Linked DNA regions of Homo sapiens: region 2 is linked to region 1. Evidence: fine-mapped expression QTL. Tissue or cell type: whole blood. Region 1 holds a variant in brackets; the other region holds the start of a gene. All regions are shown on one strand. Distances are from middle to middle.

The links. PIP is the estimated chance that this variant, and not a neighbour inherited with it, causes the effect.
Region 2: it holds the start of CFAP418, and the variant in region 1 is fine-mapped to the expression of CFAP418 in whole blood (TOPMed, PIP 0.99).

What each region holds. Positions count from the first base shown.
Region 1 is chr8:95,236,928-95,245,034 of GRCh38, forward strand. It overlaps CFAP418 (cilia and flagella associated protein 418), which reads right to left. Exons shown (of 6, transcript NM_177965.4): 6 at 7,986-8,107. Among named protein-coding and RNA genes, the nearest start is that of LINC01298, 25 kb to the left of the region's middle. The variant C/T (reference allele first, on the strand shown) is at 5,000.
Region 2 is chr8:95,266,032-95,274,138 of GRCh38, forward strand. It overlaps CFAP418 (cilia and flagella associated protein 418), which reads right to left and starts at 3,170. Exons shown (of 6, transcript NM_177965.4): 1 at 3,004-3,170. The coding sequence starts at 3,158. It overlaps CFAP418-AS1 (CFAP418 antisense RNA 1), which reads left to right and starts at 2,805. Exons shown (of 4, transcript NR_038209.1): 1 at 2,805-2,859. TRS-AGA2-5 (tRNA-Ser (anticodon AGA) 2-5) reads right to left here and starts at 3,707; the gene lies at 3,626-3,707. RefSeq lists enhancers at 2,762-3,201, 3,156-3,795, 3,832-3,911.

The sequences.
Region 1 (8,107 bases):
TCCTTTAGTGCATAGTCAGCTGTGGAGGAAAACCAAGGCCAGATGGAAGGGACTTGAAAAGCGTTTGTGGGGTCCTTCCACCACCAGAGGCTGAGGCTATAGCTATTTATGATAGAATATACCTTACTCCATGGGGAAAACTCTTGTCTAATCCCCCATCCCTCAAAAAATTATGTAAGGATAAAACATTATATTCTTTGAGAGATCTTTTACAATTTTTCCTACATACCTGTGAATGTCAATTTTACTTGACTCTAAGAACTTAAAATGGTTTCTATGTTATGTACTTTCTTTATTTTTTCCATCCACTTTCTAGAGTCCTGCTTTCTATCTAACATTGCTAATAAGTGCTGCTCTTTGCAATGGAAGATGGTGCCAGTGACTCACTTTCTAGAGGGCCACGCACTCTAAGATACTTCTCCTAGTGGGAGGAATTGGTATTGTCAACCTTTGGAGGCTGTTACTTTTTTCTGTGTAAAGTGAATTGGTCATTAGGGAACTCAAACCTTGAAGTTGGCATTGACTGTTTCTAGGGGACTAAAAGAAACATTGATCATAATACACACTCAACCTAAATGAAATAATCTTTTCTGAATGATTACATTATGAAAAGAGATTCATGGAACTTTTATTCTGGGAGGGACATTAAAAATCACTTAGTATAACCTCATATTTTTATACTGGCAGTAAGGACTCTTAGAGAATTGTTTTTTAATAGGTGAGGATACTAAAGCCCAAAGAGGGAAGTGATATGCCCAAGGTCTTATTGCTGTTAGTGGATTGTAACCCTGGCTGTACTACGCTAGAATAATTGGGAGAGTTGTTGAAAAGTACCGATGCTTGGGTCTCACTGCAGACTAATGAATCAGATTTTCTGGGCCTAAAGCCTGGGTTACTGGCACTTTTTAAAGCTCTCCAGCTGACTCTATCTGAGGCCAGAGTGGAGAAGCACTGAGCTAGACAAGAACCCAGCCCCCAGTCCCGAGACTGCCAGTGTTAGCAAACCCATGGCAGTCTCTCATTCCGCACCCCTGAGCCCATGGCAGACTTGACTCATGGGTCACTGAACTGTTTCCTGCTGTGCCTAACCTGGCCTTCTCATACTGTTCATCTGCTGCCTGTCCATGAGCATTGGGAAGACAACCTGAGACACAGCTACAGTCAGGCACTGTATCTTGGTTCCTCTAAATAAAATCACACAAAATATCTGAAAGTATTATTCTGGTAACACTGTGATTGTATATTCTCACAGTCCAGTGTATTCATCTATTGGTCTGTCAAGGCTCAATGGGGGAATACCAGGGTGAAAGCCCTGTGTGACTCAACTGAGCTAGGTCTGAACACTACTCTGCTATTTACAACCTGTGTGATTTTGGGCAAGTTTTTGTGCCTCAGTTTCTTCCATGTCTCTTCTCTGGCATTAATCTCCAGCAAAACTGAAGCCTGGACCCTCAGTCTTTCCTGCTTTTTAAATCTATCTGAACCACACAATCCCCTTAATCCCTGATACTAACTTGTTCTTATGAACAAAGACTTGGTAAGAGTTAGTGCTTAGGCCTCATTCCCAAGTACTCAGAGCGCCTGGAAATGGCCTTCCAAAGACACAATACTTCGACACATTTTTTTCTTGGGTATTGTGTACTTCTCTAGCCAGAGATGAACTTCGCAGTCTCCTAACAAATTGGATTCTGTTTAAATTGATTCTACTCAAAAGTGAGAGCAAAGGATGTAGGCTGCTGGACTGGATGCAAACAACGTGACAATCCCTCTCCCCCACCTCCCTCCCTGCCCTGCAGCCTGGGTTACCACCCAGGGCCAGAGCCTGAGCTACCACCCAGGGCCAGAGCCTGAGCTTACATCACACAAGGAAACCGCCTTGTTCTAGCAGAGACCAGTTGCTGTTAGATCAAGGCTGCTGAATCCCCCCAGGGCTCTGATCCCTATTGTTTTTTGGTTAAAATATGAGTTCCTTCCAGGCTCTCACCCTAATACTGCTCGTTCTTCCTCATCTCTTGCCATCCCCTGCCTCCCCTACCACCCCCCACTGTTGCCTCCTGGCCAAATTATTCGCCATAAATGCCTTCTGGAATGCCCGCTTCATGGTAAGTGAGCTCCTCGTGCCCTCACCCTGCCTTAACTGAACATGGCTTTCTTGGGACTGTCTTCCTGAGGTCCTTTCATTCTCAAAGAGTGGGATGTCAAAGAGTGGGATGTCATTCTTCTCCTCCTGAGTTCAACAGGTGAGGGTATACAATCCTTCTGGGAGAGGAGAGAGAATAACTCTCAGTACCACACTTGGAAAAAGTGCTTGTCATTTTTCTCTCTCAACTGCTTCTTACAATTAGTTCAATTTGTATCTCATGGGACTGTATGGGACAGACTGAATTCTTAAGTCAATCCTACCTATGTCTCTAGTGCAGCCTCAGAGAAGATAGATGATGCCTTTTGGAACCCATGTCTCTCTGACCCCAGAATCTGGGATCTTCCCCACCACACACATCACATCTCCCAATGTGTGGACAGGACAACACCAGGTGCACCAAGCTACTTTTAGAGGAACAGTACTCATACCATCTGCAAGTTATAAGAAAACTTAAGAGGCCGGGTATGGTGGCTCATGCCTGTAATCCCAGCACTTTGGGGGGCCGAGGCAGGCAGATCATCTGAGGTCAGGAGTTCAAGACCAGCCTAGCTAACATGGTGAAACCCCGTCTCTACTAAAAATACAAAAATAAGCTGGGCATGGTGGTGGGTACCTGTAATCCCAGCTACTCGGGAGGCTGAGGCAGGAGAATTGCTTGAACCTGGCAGGTGGAGGTTGCAGTGAGCCTAGATCATGCCATTGTACTCCGGCTTGGGCAACAAGAGTGAAACTACATCTCAAAACAAACAAAGAAACAAACAAACAAAGAAAACTTAATAATCCAACCCTCTTTTCACAGATGAGCCCAAAGACACTCTGGCTTACTTACAGTGATCCCAGGAAGTTAGTGACAAAACTCTCCCAGTTTCCCCTGTACCACTCAGAGACTTTAAAGAACTTGAAATCTAATCTCCAAGATCAATACAATAAGCACACAAATAATTACAATTCAAGGTATTATATGAGAAACAAAGTCTGAAAGCAGATGGGAGAGGGAGAAATTACATCTTTAGGCTGCGGTAGGGTGGCCTAGGAAGGGTAATCAGGATTGTGTACAACGGTTCTCAACCTTTTTCGTCTCATAACTTTTTTACACTTAAAATTTTTTAAAAAAATATTTGTGGGTACACAGTAGGTGTATATATTTATGGGAGTATATGAGATGTTTTGATACAGGGATGCAATGCGAAATAAGCACATCATAGAGAATGGGGTATCCATCCCCTCGAGCATTTATTCTTTGGGTTACAAGCAACTCAATTATACTCTGTAAGTTATTTAAAAATGTACAATTAATTATTAATTATGTATTTACTGTAGTCACTCTGTGGTGCTATCAAATAGTAGGTCTTATTCATTCTTCCTATTTTTTTTTGTACCCATTAACCATCTTACCTACCCTGCCAGGTCCCCACTACCCTTCCCACCCTCTGGTAACTACCCTTCTACTCTCTATGTCCATGAGTTCCTTGTTTTGATTTTTAGATCCTACAAATAAGTGAGAAGATGTGATGTTTGTGTCTGGCTTATTTCACTTAACATAATCATCTCCAGTTTCATCCATGTTGTTGCAAGTGACTGGGTCTCATTCATTTTTATGGCTGAATAGTACTCCGGTGTGTATATGTACCACATTTTCTTTATCCATTCATCTGTTGACGAACACTTAGGTTGCTTCTATTGTAAACAGAGCTGCAACAAACATAGGAGTGCAGATACCTCTTCAATATATTGATTTCCTTTCTTTTGTGTACATACCCAGCAGTGGGATTGCTGGATCATATGGTAGCTCAATTTTTAGTTTTTTGAGGAACTTCTAGGCTGTTCTCCATAGTGGTTGTACTAATTTACATTCCTACCAACAGTGTACAAGGGTTCCCTTTTCTTCACATCCTCACCAGCATTTGTTATTACCCGTCTTTTGGATACAAGCCATTTTAACTGGTACAAGATGATATTTTGCTGTAGTTTTGATTTGCATTTCTCTGACGATCAATGATGTTAAGCACTTTTTCATATGCCTACTGGTCATTTGTATGTCTTCTTTTAAGAAATGTCCATTCAAATCTTTTGCCCATTTTTGATTGGATTATTAGTTTTTTCCTATGGAACTGTTTGGGCTCCTTATATATTCTGGTTATTAATCCTTTGTAAGATGGAAAGTTTGCAAATATTTTCTCCCATCCTGTGGGTTGTCTCTTCGCTTTGTTGGTTGTCTCCTTTGCTGTGCAGAAACTTTTTAATTTGATATGATCCCATTTGTCTATGTTTGCTTTGATTGCCTATGGTTGTGGGGTATTGCTCAAGAAATATTTGCCCAGACCAATGTCCTGGAGTGTATCCCAATGTTTTCTTTTAGTAGTTTCATAGTTTGAGGTCTTACATTTAAATCTTTAATCCATTTTGGTTTGATTTTTGTATAGGGCAAGAGATAGAGGTCTAGTTTCATTCTTCTGCAGAGGGATATCCAGTTTTCCCAGCATCATTTATTGTCTTTTCCTTAGTGTATGTTTTTGGCCCTTTTACATTCTTAACCCCAAGAGCTTGGTTTTTTGGGGTTATATCTATTGATTTTTACTGTATTAGTAATTAAAACTAAGAACATTAAAAATATACATTGACTATACTTAAAAATAATAAACCCATTATATGTTATCACATTTTTATGAAAATAACTACATTTTCCAAAACAAATGCAGTGACAAGCGTGACATTTGTTTTCTATTTCTGCTGCTCTGTTTAATCTCTGGCTTAACAGAAGACAGCTGGATTCTCATATTTACTGCTCATTCGCTCTCTTGACATAGGTTGTTTTGGCTGAGGCCTTAGAAGAAAACTCAGCCTCATGCAGACTTA[C/T]AGTTGGAAAAGAGGATAGTATTTTAATAGTCTTTTCAGATAACTGTACCTATTTATCAATACTACATCAAAACTTCACAAGGAGTAGTTTCTTAAAAGTTAGCTGCAATGTAGAAACTGAAATCATATCAAATGAACTTTCAGCATGCAGTTATGTTAAAATCTATTGGTCTGTCTTGCATTTTAAATGTATAGTTTTGTTATATCATGTATTGGTTCTTTTGGCAATACTGGTTTGCTGAATTATACAGATCTTCCAAATATTGTCACATTTCATTATATAGTATAAAAAATTGCTTGTTAATATCACCACTAGTCTTATCTGGAAAGAATTTAAATAATGGGGACATGCTCGCAGTGGATACAAATATTTTGAAATTCTAATTTTCACTTAACATTCTGTCAGTTATTTTCTTGAAGGAGACTCATATTATTACTTTTCTGAGTACTCATAGTTTTTGTCTGTCAGCTGTTGTTTTAGGCAAAAATGGGTTCAACGAAAAAAGCAGTTCATTCAGCTCACAACTCAGACAATTGCTCAAGTGCTTTAGTTGTACTTCCCATTTAGTCACTCAGAATATTTAAAAGACAAGTTGTTGAAGGCTAAGATAATAATTTTTACTGCCTTTATCAAGGACATTCTTAACTGAAACTGGCTTTTTTTTTATGGGAGGTGCATAGCATCATTGCTTTGAATGGTGCTAAGTCAGGTGCCAGCAGTGCTAGCTACCATTTCCGCCATCTGCGCAAACGTCAACACAGTGAAGAAGGAAACTGATATCTTCTGACTCAAAATAGATTTGATCTTGTGGACTACCTGAAAGACCCCTGAGAGTGGAACTCACTTTGAGAACTGCTGTTGTACAAGATACTGGCTTTGAAAAATGAGTTGGATTTTGAAAGGATAAGATGAGGGAGTATATCTGAAGAACAGCAGGTACGCAGTTTGGTTGGAGAAGGAGGAAAGCAGAGGCAGATGAAACTGAAAAGATATCGTGAAAGGCCTGAATGCCTTCATGATGACCCACTTAGGTTTAAGCCACACAGAAAGAGGCAGGCTAGGGGGAGCATCTTTTTTTTTTTTTTTAATAGAAAAGTTGTGGCTTCAACTTATATAAAATAAAGGTCGCCATGTGTACAGTCACTAGTTATAAATAAATGATCGCATTGCTGCTTTCCTCATAGGGAATAAATAAAACAAACATCTTTACAAATTACTTGTTGTAAGAATCATGCTGCACTATTACTTCAATTTAGACAGTATTTATTTTAAAAGGAAAAAGAATGAGAACAAACCATTGTGGAAGACAGTGTGGCGATTCCTCAAGGATCTAGAACCAGAAGTTCAATCCCATTACTGGGTATATACCCAAAGGATTATAAATCATTCTACTATAAAGACACATGCACACGTATGTTTACTGCAGTACTATTCACAATAACAAAGACTGGGAACCAACCCAAATGCCCATTAATGATAGACTGGATAAAGAAAATGTGGCACATATACACCATGGAATACTATGCAGCCATAAAAAAGGATGAGTTCATGTCCTTTGCAGGGACATGGATGAAGCTGGAAACCATCTCAGCAAACTAACACAAGAACAGAAAACCAAACACTGCATGTTCTCACTCATAAGTGGGAGTTGAACAATGAGAACACATGGACACAGGGAGGGGAACATTACACACCAGAGGCTGGTTGGGGGCTAGGGGGCTAGGGGAGGGATAGCATTAGGAGAAATACCTAACATAGATGACAGGTTGATGGGTGCAGCAAACCACCCTGGCACGTGTATAATTATTTAACAAACCTGCACGTAACCTGCACGTTCTGCACATGTATCCCAGTACTTAAAGTATAATAATAACAAAAGAATGAGAACATTTATTAAGCACCTATTCTGAACCAAACACTATGCTAGTCACTTTTCATGTGTTATATGATTTAATCCTTACAACAAACTTACAAAAGTGGTATTATAATTCATACAGTTAAGGCGAACGAAGCCCAAAATGTCATGTGACTTTCTAAGGGACACGACTCTGAACTCTGACTTTGTTAAACTTCATTTGGTCATCCCTTATCTCAAGGCATTTGGGGAAAGTCAAATTTAATTATCATGTACTTGTATATATACATATCTAATGCAATCTTTTTTCTTTTTTGGTTTTTCTAGTGCATTCTTAAAATAGGGCACAAAATGATGTCACAAACCCAATGAAATACAATAAGATATGAAATCTCTAAAGAGATTGCGTATTTTAAATTTTTTCTTTCAGGAACTATTTTATACAAGAGATATTGCTGATTACTGGGAGCATTAGGTTGGCTGATAGAGATTTTGTTAAAACATTAGAAATATCAGCATTTGAAATTCATGGCTAAGCTTCATCACAATGCTTTTGGATACAAAGACCTTTTTCTTTCATATTCTTAAATATCAGTAAGAAAAAGAGAGAAAGCAATTCAGATTCATAGTCTGATGACATATTCTCTGGCCTAAGAAAAAAAGGTACTAAGTTTACTGACATCAACGAACAGGTTCTAGGTATACACCGCCAAGTCAGCATGGCCTGTTCTTCCTAAACTTGGACCTGTTCCTTTGAATACCCATGGTACTTTACACATGCATGCACACACATACTCTCTTTACACATGCATGTACACACACACACACACACACACACACACACACACACACACATCAGAGTTATGGCATACTTCTCCTCCCCAGTGTAGACAAATTATCTGTTTAACTGGATGCTTGGAAACTTTTCTGTTGACATTAAAAAAATTTTTTTTGACTGGGCATGGTGCTTCACACCTGTAATCCCAGCACTTTGGGAGGCTGAGGTGGGAGGATCGCTTTAGCTCAGGAGTTCAAGGAAGCAGTGAGCTATGATTGCACCACTGCACTCTAGTCTGGGCAACAGAGAGAGACTCTGTCTCAAAAAAAAAAAACATCAAAATGATTTCAAATTAATGTCCATCCAAATGAATATTTTACTATAAAATAAAAGAAGTAAATAATACAGAGTAATTATTTATTACTTATTCATTTCTAGGCAGGATGAGGGTCTGAGAGTATAATACAGTTCAAA
Region 2 (8,107 bases), 29 kb after region 1:
TTATATAGAAAGCTTAAATCTAGATCTACTATGTCCTTGTGATTTAGCAATATGACTTTAGGCAAGTAACTAAGCATTGATTTGGTCAATGAAATGGGGATAACAGTATTCACGCATGGGATTGTGAAGATTAAATGAAATAACATATACAAAGCACTTAGCATACAGAAAGAGCTCAATAAATGTTGGCTGTTATTATAGTTATCATCTAGAAAGCTATATTATCTTTAAATATTCCCATCTGTATCATCCTGAACCACTTTATTCCTATTGCAGTTCTTCTCAACCCACATCAGTCTTTTTTAATTTTTTTACTAATCACATATTTCTTTTTATCATTTTGAACACTTCAACAAATTGCATGTTTTGACCTCTTACATTAGCAGTTGTTCCTGGTATCCAGATGTAGCATGGTCATTTATAGTATTATTTGCATTTATAGTATCATTTTAAGAGGTAATATTAGTATTTTAACTCTTATAAGAGATACAGGTTACACTGCTATACAATTAGTAGGTAATCTCCTGTCAATAAATTCAAACATAAATTGCTTCCTAGCTTTTAAGTATAAATTTTGGCTCAAGGAAAAATTTTAATATATAACATTATAAACCAGGTTGGGACTATATTTGGTATAAGGTTTAGGCCCTTTGTTGCTGTTTTTTGTACAATTTACAACTACATTGCCAGATGAAAAGTTTTAATATAAATGACAACAGTACTGTTTCACTAAGGCTTTTATGTTACTTAGTACTAAAAAAATCTAATGTATTAAGGTGGGCTGAGGTACTAGAAATATTATGGATGAATTTTAGTAGAGCAAGAACAGGCATGACACAACCCATGGTTGGAGAAGATCCACATAAATAGTCCTTTCCATTTTGAGCAGCTGGCTTCAATACATCCTGCCCCTCCGCATGCTAGTTCTCCTAAGATGAACAGCTCTGAAAAGCTCCTTGATAGACTAGTTCTATCCCCTAGAAGGACAAACGAAAAGTACTAAAGAAATTGCAAAGCAACACTGTTGTGGGATAGGGATGGTAGATGCGCTAATAGATACATAAGGAATTCCAGTACACAAGATAATAAAAGTTAATGAGAGTGATATTTACAACATCCAGCCAAATGAGTGTTAGCCCATTCATAGTAATTATAGTTGTTTCTAATTTTTGTTTTAAAATGCTGCTCAGAACTCAACTAATTTTTAGAAATTTTGTTTATGTACTCCTTTAGAATTTTTTCGATGCTTTTATCTTCGCAGAGTGAATTTTTATAAATAAATGTCACTGACTGGGCACGGTGGCTCATGCCTGTAATCCCAGCACTTTGGGAGGCCGAGGTGGGTGGATCACGAGGTCAGGAGATCGAGACCATCCTGGCTAACACGGTGAAACCCCGTTTCTACCAGAAATACAAAAAATTAGCCAGGCGTGGTGGCGGGCGCCTGTAGTCTCAGCTACTCGGGAGGCTGAGGCAGGGGAATGGGAGGCGGAGCTTGCAGTGAGCTGAGGTGGGCCACTGCACTCCAGCCTGGGCGACAGAGCGAAACTCAAAAATAAATAAATAAGTAAATAAAATAAATAAATATCACTGGAGGTAAGCCAGGTGAACTGGATAGTAACAGAGTTGGATAATACTTTGGGAAATCACACATACACACACCAAAAAACCAAAACCAAACCAAAGATGCAGCAAAAAAATTAACGGAGATGACGTTCTTAGATTGATCCAAAGTTGCCTCCGTGTAATTTCACAAGCGTTTCCAAAATATTCTAGGCAAGAGGCAATTTCCAAAAGATTCTAGCAAGAGTTACTGAAGGTCAATATTCTTATGCAAACATTTTGTTTTTTTTTTTTGAGGGGTTGTGGGGGAAATGAGGAAGTGAAGGAAATCCTATTATTTAATAATTACATGGAGGAAAAACGACTGGTAAATTTGAAAGGTAGTTTTTAGATAAAAAACCAAAATACCTTAAGAAATGTCCTTAAATTTCCATATGTATGTCTGGCACCCTTAACTAGGGGGCCATGGAGAGAAGGAAGGTAGACGGTTTAATGTTCACAATAATTAACCCTTTTGTAATGAATTTAATCTCATCTTAACTCCCTGAGTTAAAAAAATAAAACAAACTGAGTCAGGTGCGATGGCTCGCAACTGTAATCCTAGCAGTTAGGGGAGGCAGAGGCGGGAGGACAGCTTGAACTCAGGAGTTCAAGACCAGCCTGGCCAACACAGTGAGACTGTCTCTACAAAAAATACAAATTAACCGGGCTCGTGCCTGTAATCCCAGTTTACGTAATCCCAGATTACAGGCTCGTGCCTGTAATCCCAGCTAGGGTAGGCCGAGGTGGGAGGATCTTTGAACCCGGGAGTTGGAGGCTGCAGTGAGCTACGATCGTGCCACTGCACTCCAACCTGGGCGACAGAGCGAGACTCCATCTCAAAAAACAAACAAAACAACAAAACTGAGCTAAAGACAAATAGGATTGACCTGGGGAGTGGGGTCTGAGGCAATGGGATGAGGCTGTCTAACAGGGCACCTCACAGGGAGATGAGAACCGCTTGGCCACACAGAGGCAAAATGCGGCCGAGGTCAGCACAGCCCTCTCGGGGTTAAGAACGGGGCGCCTGAGGGGTATCCCGGTCCCCGACTAGAACCTCCTACGCGCTGGCAGCCAGAAACAGGATGAAGGAGACTGGCGCGGACTGCGGGCTCTGCGGGCGGGGCGGGGCGGGGCGGGGCGGGGCGGGGCGGGGCGGGGGCCAGCCCTCTGGGGCATGCCGGGGGGCGGAGTCTGCGCTGAGTGAAGAGGTGCCAGAATCCGCGAAGAGGGTCGACGAATGCGCTGCCGCGGAGGGTAGGGCGCTGAGGGTCTGAACCCTGATGCAAGGAGGGGCTGGAGGTCGCGGGCACGTTTCTTTTGGGTTGGGCGGCGGAGGGGCAGCTCTAGGGCCTGGAGCAGGGCTTTACCAGAACAGTCCACCCCTCCCGCCCGGTTAACCTGAGCGTCTCTTTCGCCTTGGCTTGGTTCCGGTCGCTACTGTGGGTGCCGCCGCCGCAGCCTTTGGGCTGCTCGACCATACCCCGTCTTAGAAGGTCAGGTGTGCAAAACTTGGACTCGACTTCATCCAAGAGCTCGTCCAGGTCCTCCGCCATCTTGAATCGCCTGGCCTTTTCCCCTCCAATCGCCAAGGCTCCGGTGGTTTCCAGGAGTAACGAGGGGACCTGGCGGGCTCCTGCCCCGTTAGGCGTCCCCGCGCATGCGCACCGCTTCCCGTGGCAACCCGGCGCCCACGAGGGCTCGCGGCAGAGAACGCGGTGGGTTCGTGAGGGGCGGGCGTATGCAGGGACAGAGTTCGGAGCTGTCTCTGCAGTGTGTCTGTGTGACTCGCGATGCTTTGCGTTTCTTCCTTTCAGCATGTCTGGCGTGGTTCCTCCCGTCTCCCCCTCCCGGGCCCACGTTGTAACCACAAGCACGCATTCTCGCCCCTTCATTCTCTCCTCTCCCGTTTGGGTCCCTGTTGTGTTTCAGCCGTTTGTAAATTCCTGAAATCTGTGGAAGGTTTGAGCAGAACGCTCTAAAACACAAAAAGTAAGTGTTGACGGCAAAAAGCTGACATTCCCGTAGTCGGCAGGATTCGAACCTGCGCGGGGAGACCCCAATGGATTTCTAGTCCATCGCCTTAACCACTCGGCCACGACTACTGGCTGTGTGAATTTTTGCGGTGAGAGTGCATGTAGACTCTGCATAAGCGTCTGCTGCAGCAATAGGCACGTTTTGATGTGGAGGAAACCATTACTGAGCTGTTCTGTTAAGAGCATATTTGAATGTTACCTCGCTCATCATTTTACAGTTTGTAAAAGTCTTAGAACGTATCCCGTCCAACTCTTTGTTGGAAAAAACGGAAATTCTAATTAAATCCGAGAGAGAGAGAGAGAGAGACAGAGAGAGAGATGCGTGCTCAAAACTATTGCACACCCACTTGCTTGCACAATGTTGGAGCCATTTCCAGGAGAGAACCAGGAACCGGGTAGGGGCCAACCAGCTTCCCGACTTCCTTGTGGGGCTGCCAGTTCCACTCCTTCGCCTTTCTCTTTGACAAACGGCTCCCAGGACTATCTTTTCACCCATTATACATTAAAAAGCTATTACCCAGCGATTTAAATTCACTCTGCAGGGTCAGACAGTCCCACCGTGCCATAAAAGCACTACTTTGAAAAGTGTAAAGCGTGATACAAGTGTAAGGTATTGTAAATGGCATTCTTAATAAATACTGTGCATAGTTTAACCTGTGTTTTGGGTATTTCTAAAGTGGGGTAGCAAAGAGGTTGGCACCCTTGGGAACTCTGGAGATAGTTTGATCCAGATGATTTGTTTGTTCAAAGTATCTTTTAAGGTCCCTGAAGAGCAACATGTAGTGGTGTGCTGGAGCCAATGGGACATGCTCACTCCTACCCAGTGATAAATTTTCAAGGATTTTGGGAGCTAGTTGTTAAATGCAATTATTATTAAATATTAAATTATGCAAACTTGCAATTACATTATGTTAAAAGCAAATATGATACTCAAAATTCATATGCTAGTGATTCCACTACCTTTTACTATTATTTATAAATATAATTGAGATTGTTTACATCTGAAAGACTTTCTCTCTTTAACTTTCCATTCAGTGATGTCACTTGGGAAGCTTGAAATGAGCCATAGTGGGTGTTATTTACATGAGGGAAATTGCAAATGTGACAAAGCAGGGCTTTTTATCCCTAGGAGATGAAAGATACTTTGAACAAACAAATCATCTAGATCAAACTGTCATTTAGTAGAACACCCCATGTTACCATCAGACCAACTGTGAATATTCTCAGCAAGGCAACACTCCCCTTTTCTGCAGGGCTGCTCTATTTATTGTCTCTGAATCTTTGTTTTAGCTATTAGAATCCTGGCCTAAACACACACACACACACACACACACACACACACACAAATATGCATATAAACATATATGTATATTTACACACACAGGGGAAACTAGCATTTTTATGCAAAATACTTAACATTGAGCACTGACCACTCAGATCAGACACTGTCAGGATGCTTAAGTAGTATCCTAGAGGCACCCTGACATGTATTACCCTTGTAGTCAGAGTAGAGAACTCTAGAGGGTGGGGAGACAATGTTGGGGCAAGGAGGGGACTCGGACACTAGTTATTTGTCTAGAATCCTGGCATATTCTATGATTTCCAACTAATTAATTTTTTAAAGTTTTTTTCCAAGTTGCCTTGCTGGGCGATTTTACCTAGAACCGGTCTCTAGCAGAAAGGCAAGGAAAAGCTGCTTGAAAAAGCGGTCCTTGCAACATGGTTCCAGGGGAAGTCATAGTTAGTGGCCATCCAGTTTAACAGGCTTACATTAATGATTTGATTTTGCTCTTGAGAAGATGAAATCTGAGGGGATCTGTACCAATGTTGAAAGTATCTGTTAGCGGCCGGGCGCGGTGGCTCACGCCTGTAATCCCAGCACTTTGGGAGGCCGAGGCGGGCGGATCACGAGGTCAGGAGATGGAGACCATCCTGGCTAACACGGTGAAACCCCGTCTTTACTAAAAATACAAAAAATTAGCTGAGCGTGGTGGCGGGCGCCTGTACTGGCAGCTACTCGGGAGGTTGAGGCAGGAGAATGGCGTGAACCCGGGAGGCGGAGCTTGCAGTGAGCCAAGATCGCGCCACAGCACTCCAGCTTGGGCCACAGAGCGAGACTCCGTCTCAAAAAAAAAAAAAAAAAAAAAAAAGAATCTATTAGCGTGTAGAAGATTTGCAATGAGAGATGGTGAAAAAATAAAAGAGAAAATGTTTCTGGTTTTCTGTGTTTTGTTTTTTGTGTATATTAGAAAAAAATTAGTGTGTTCCCTCGCTCCCTCACTTCTACTCCCATTTTTCTGGTCTTTTGATTGGATAATTTATTCCGTTTACATTTTAAAATTTCATTTTATTGATTTTATTTACTTTCAGTAGCTTTTGGGGTACAAGCGGTTTTTGGTTACATGGATGAATTGTATAGTGGTGAAGTCTGAAATTTTAGTGCACCTGTCACCCGAGTAGTGTACATTATACCCAAAAGGTAGTGTTCTTTTTTTTTTTTTTTTTTTCCCAGACGGAGTTTTGCTCTTGCTGCCCAGGCTGGAGTGTGCAATGGTTTGATCTCTGCTCACCACAACCTCTGCTTCCTGGGTTCAAGTGATTCTCCTGCCTCAGCCTCCCAAGTAGCTGGGATTACAGGCATGTGCCACCATGCCGGGCTAATTTTGTATTTTTAGTAGAGACAGGGTTTCTCCATGCTGTTCAGGCTGGTCTCGAACTCCTGACCTCAGGTGATCCGCCCGCCTCAGCCTCCCAAAGTGCTGGGATTACAGGCGTGAGCCATCACACCCAGCCTCCAATAGATAGTGTTACTATCCTTTACCCCTCACCCGTCCTCCTCTCTTCTGAGTCTCCAGTGTCCATTATGCCACTCTGTATGCCTTTGTGTACCCATAAATTAACTCCTACTTACGAGTGAGAACATATGATACTTGGTTTTCCATTCCTGCCCACTCCCATTTTAATAAAATGGATGTATGGATCATCCAGAGTTTGGTATTTTGAGAATTTCATTTATGGCTCATTCAACTCTCCGGTGGGTCTCCTGACTTGAGTCATGTTCTCTTTCTGGTTTGCCACCGAGAGTGAAAGGTTGAGTTCAGAGTCTACAAGGAGAAATGCCATATGTCACATAAGAGTAACATATGTGTATGGCTGTGTGATAAACTGTAAAATTACAGTGCACTATTAAAATCTCCAGATGTCAGAAAGAAAGTTATACAGTTAAAAATTCAGTGGGCTCTAAACAATGGATGTGGATGTATAAGATGAAGGTAGTGTGGCTTTAGAAGATTCTACATTCAGGCAAATCCTATTAGATCATTTTTTTTTAAACCGGGCTATAAATTCCTTTGGTATAACTTTCTGTTTAACTAACAATCTTATTTCTTTCTCCATAATTGTTAACGTGTGTAGACAATGTCGTGAATCCTTGTCCCCTGTCTTTCCCAGTCATGGAAAGCATGCTGAGTGTCAGGTATTTCGTAAAGAATAGGCAAGTGCCTCCAGGTGATACAATTATTAACATGGTAAAGGAGACCGGGTGCCGTGGCTCATGCCTGTAATCCCAGTACTTTGGGAGGCCAAGGCGAGCGGATCACTTGAGCCCAGGAGTTTGAGACAGCCCAGGTGACATGGCAAAACGCTGTCTCTAACAAAAAAATTACAAAAATTAGCCAGGCATGGCAGCGCTGCACCTGTGGTCCCAGGTATGTGGTAGACTGAGGTGGGAGGATGGCTTGAGCTCAGGAGGTGGAGGCCGCAGTGAGCCGAGATAGTGCCACTGAACTTTAGCCTGGGTAAGAGAATGAGACTGTCTTAAAAACAAAACAAAAAACATGGTAAAGGGGCATGTCATGTATTATTACATTCACTTAGTATTCAAGGAAGTATTTTAGGTAAAAGGTGTCCAAATTAGGAAACCAAAGCACTGTTGGCTTTCCCAAGAATCTGAAGAACTCTCTGAGCCTGGTTTCTTGCTAGCACCATTATAAATGAGTTAGAGGTGGTGAGGCAGCTGGTTCTGCTGTCCCACGCCGCCTCAGGCCAACTGCTTCAGTTACAAGGTGTTCTGTAATCTCCCTGGCTGCTCACATAATGAATTGCAAGGCTTCTTTGAATTCCCATGTACTTAGGTTTAATTTTCCCTTCCCTGCATCTTTCCCCTGCATACTGCAGGCCTTTTAAACAAATACCCACTGGTGGGCGGTGACATTGGCATGAGGGGAGGCATCCTCCTGGATCAGTTGCAAGCCTCCTAGCAGCTGATGCCATGGAAGAATGGAGTAGCACCGAAGCAGCTCCAGTTCTTTTAAGTGGTCCCTGAATTAGGCCTCGATGTCATGTAGGTAAATTCAGCCCAGAACATGCAGAATCTTTATTGGAATTTGTACATTCATCTCTCACAGCTGTGGAGAGTTTAGACTAATCACAACTCTCACTGGGATACTATTATCTTGGTAATTTGAAAA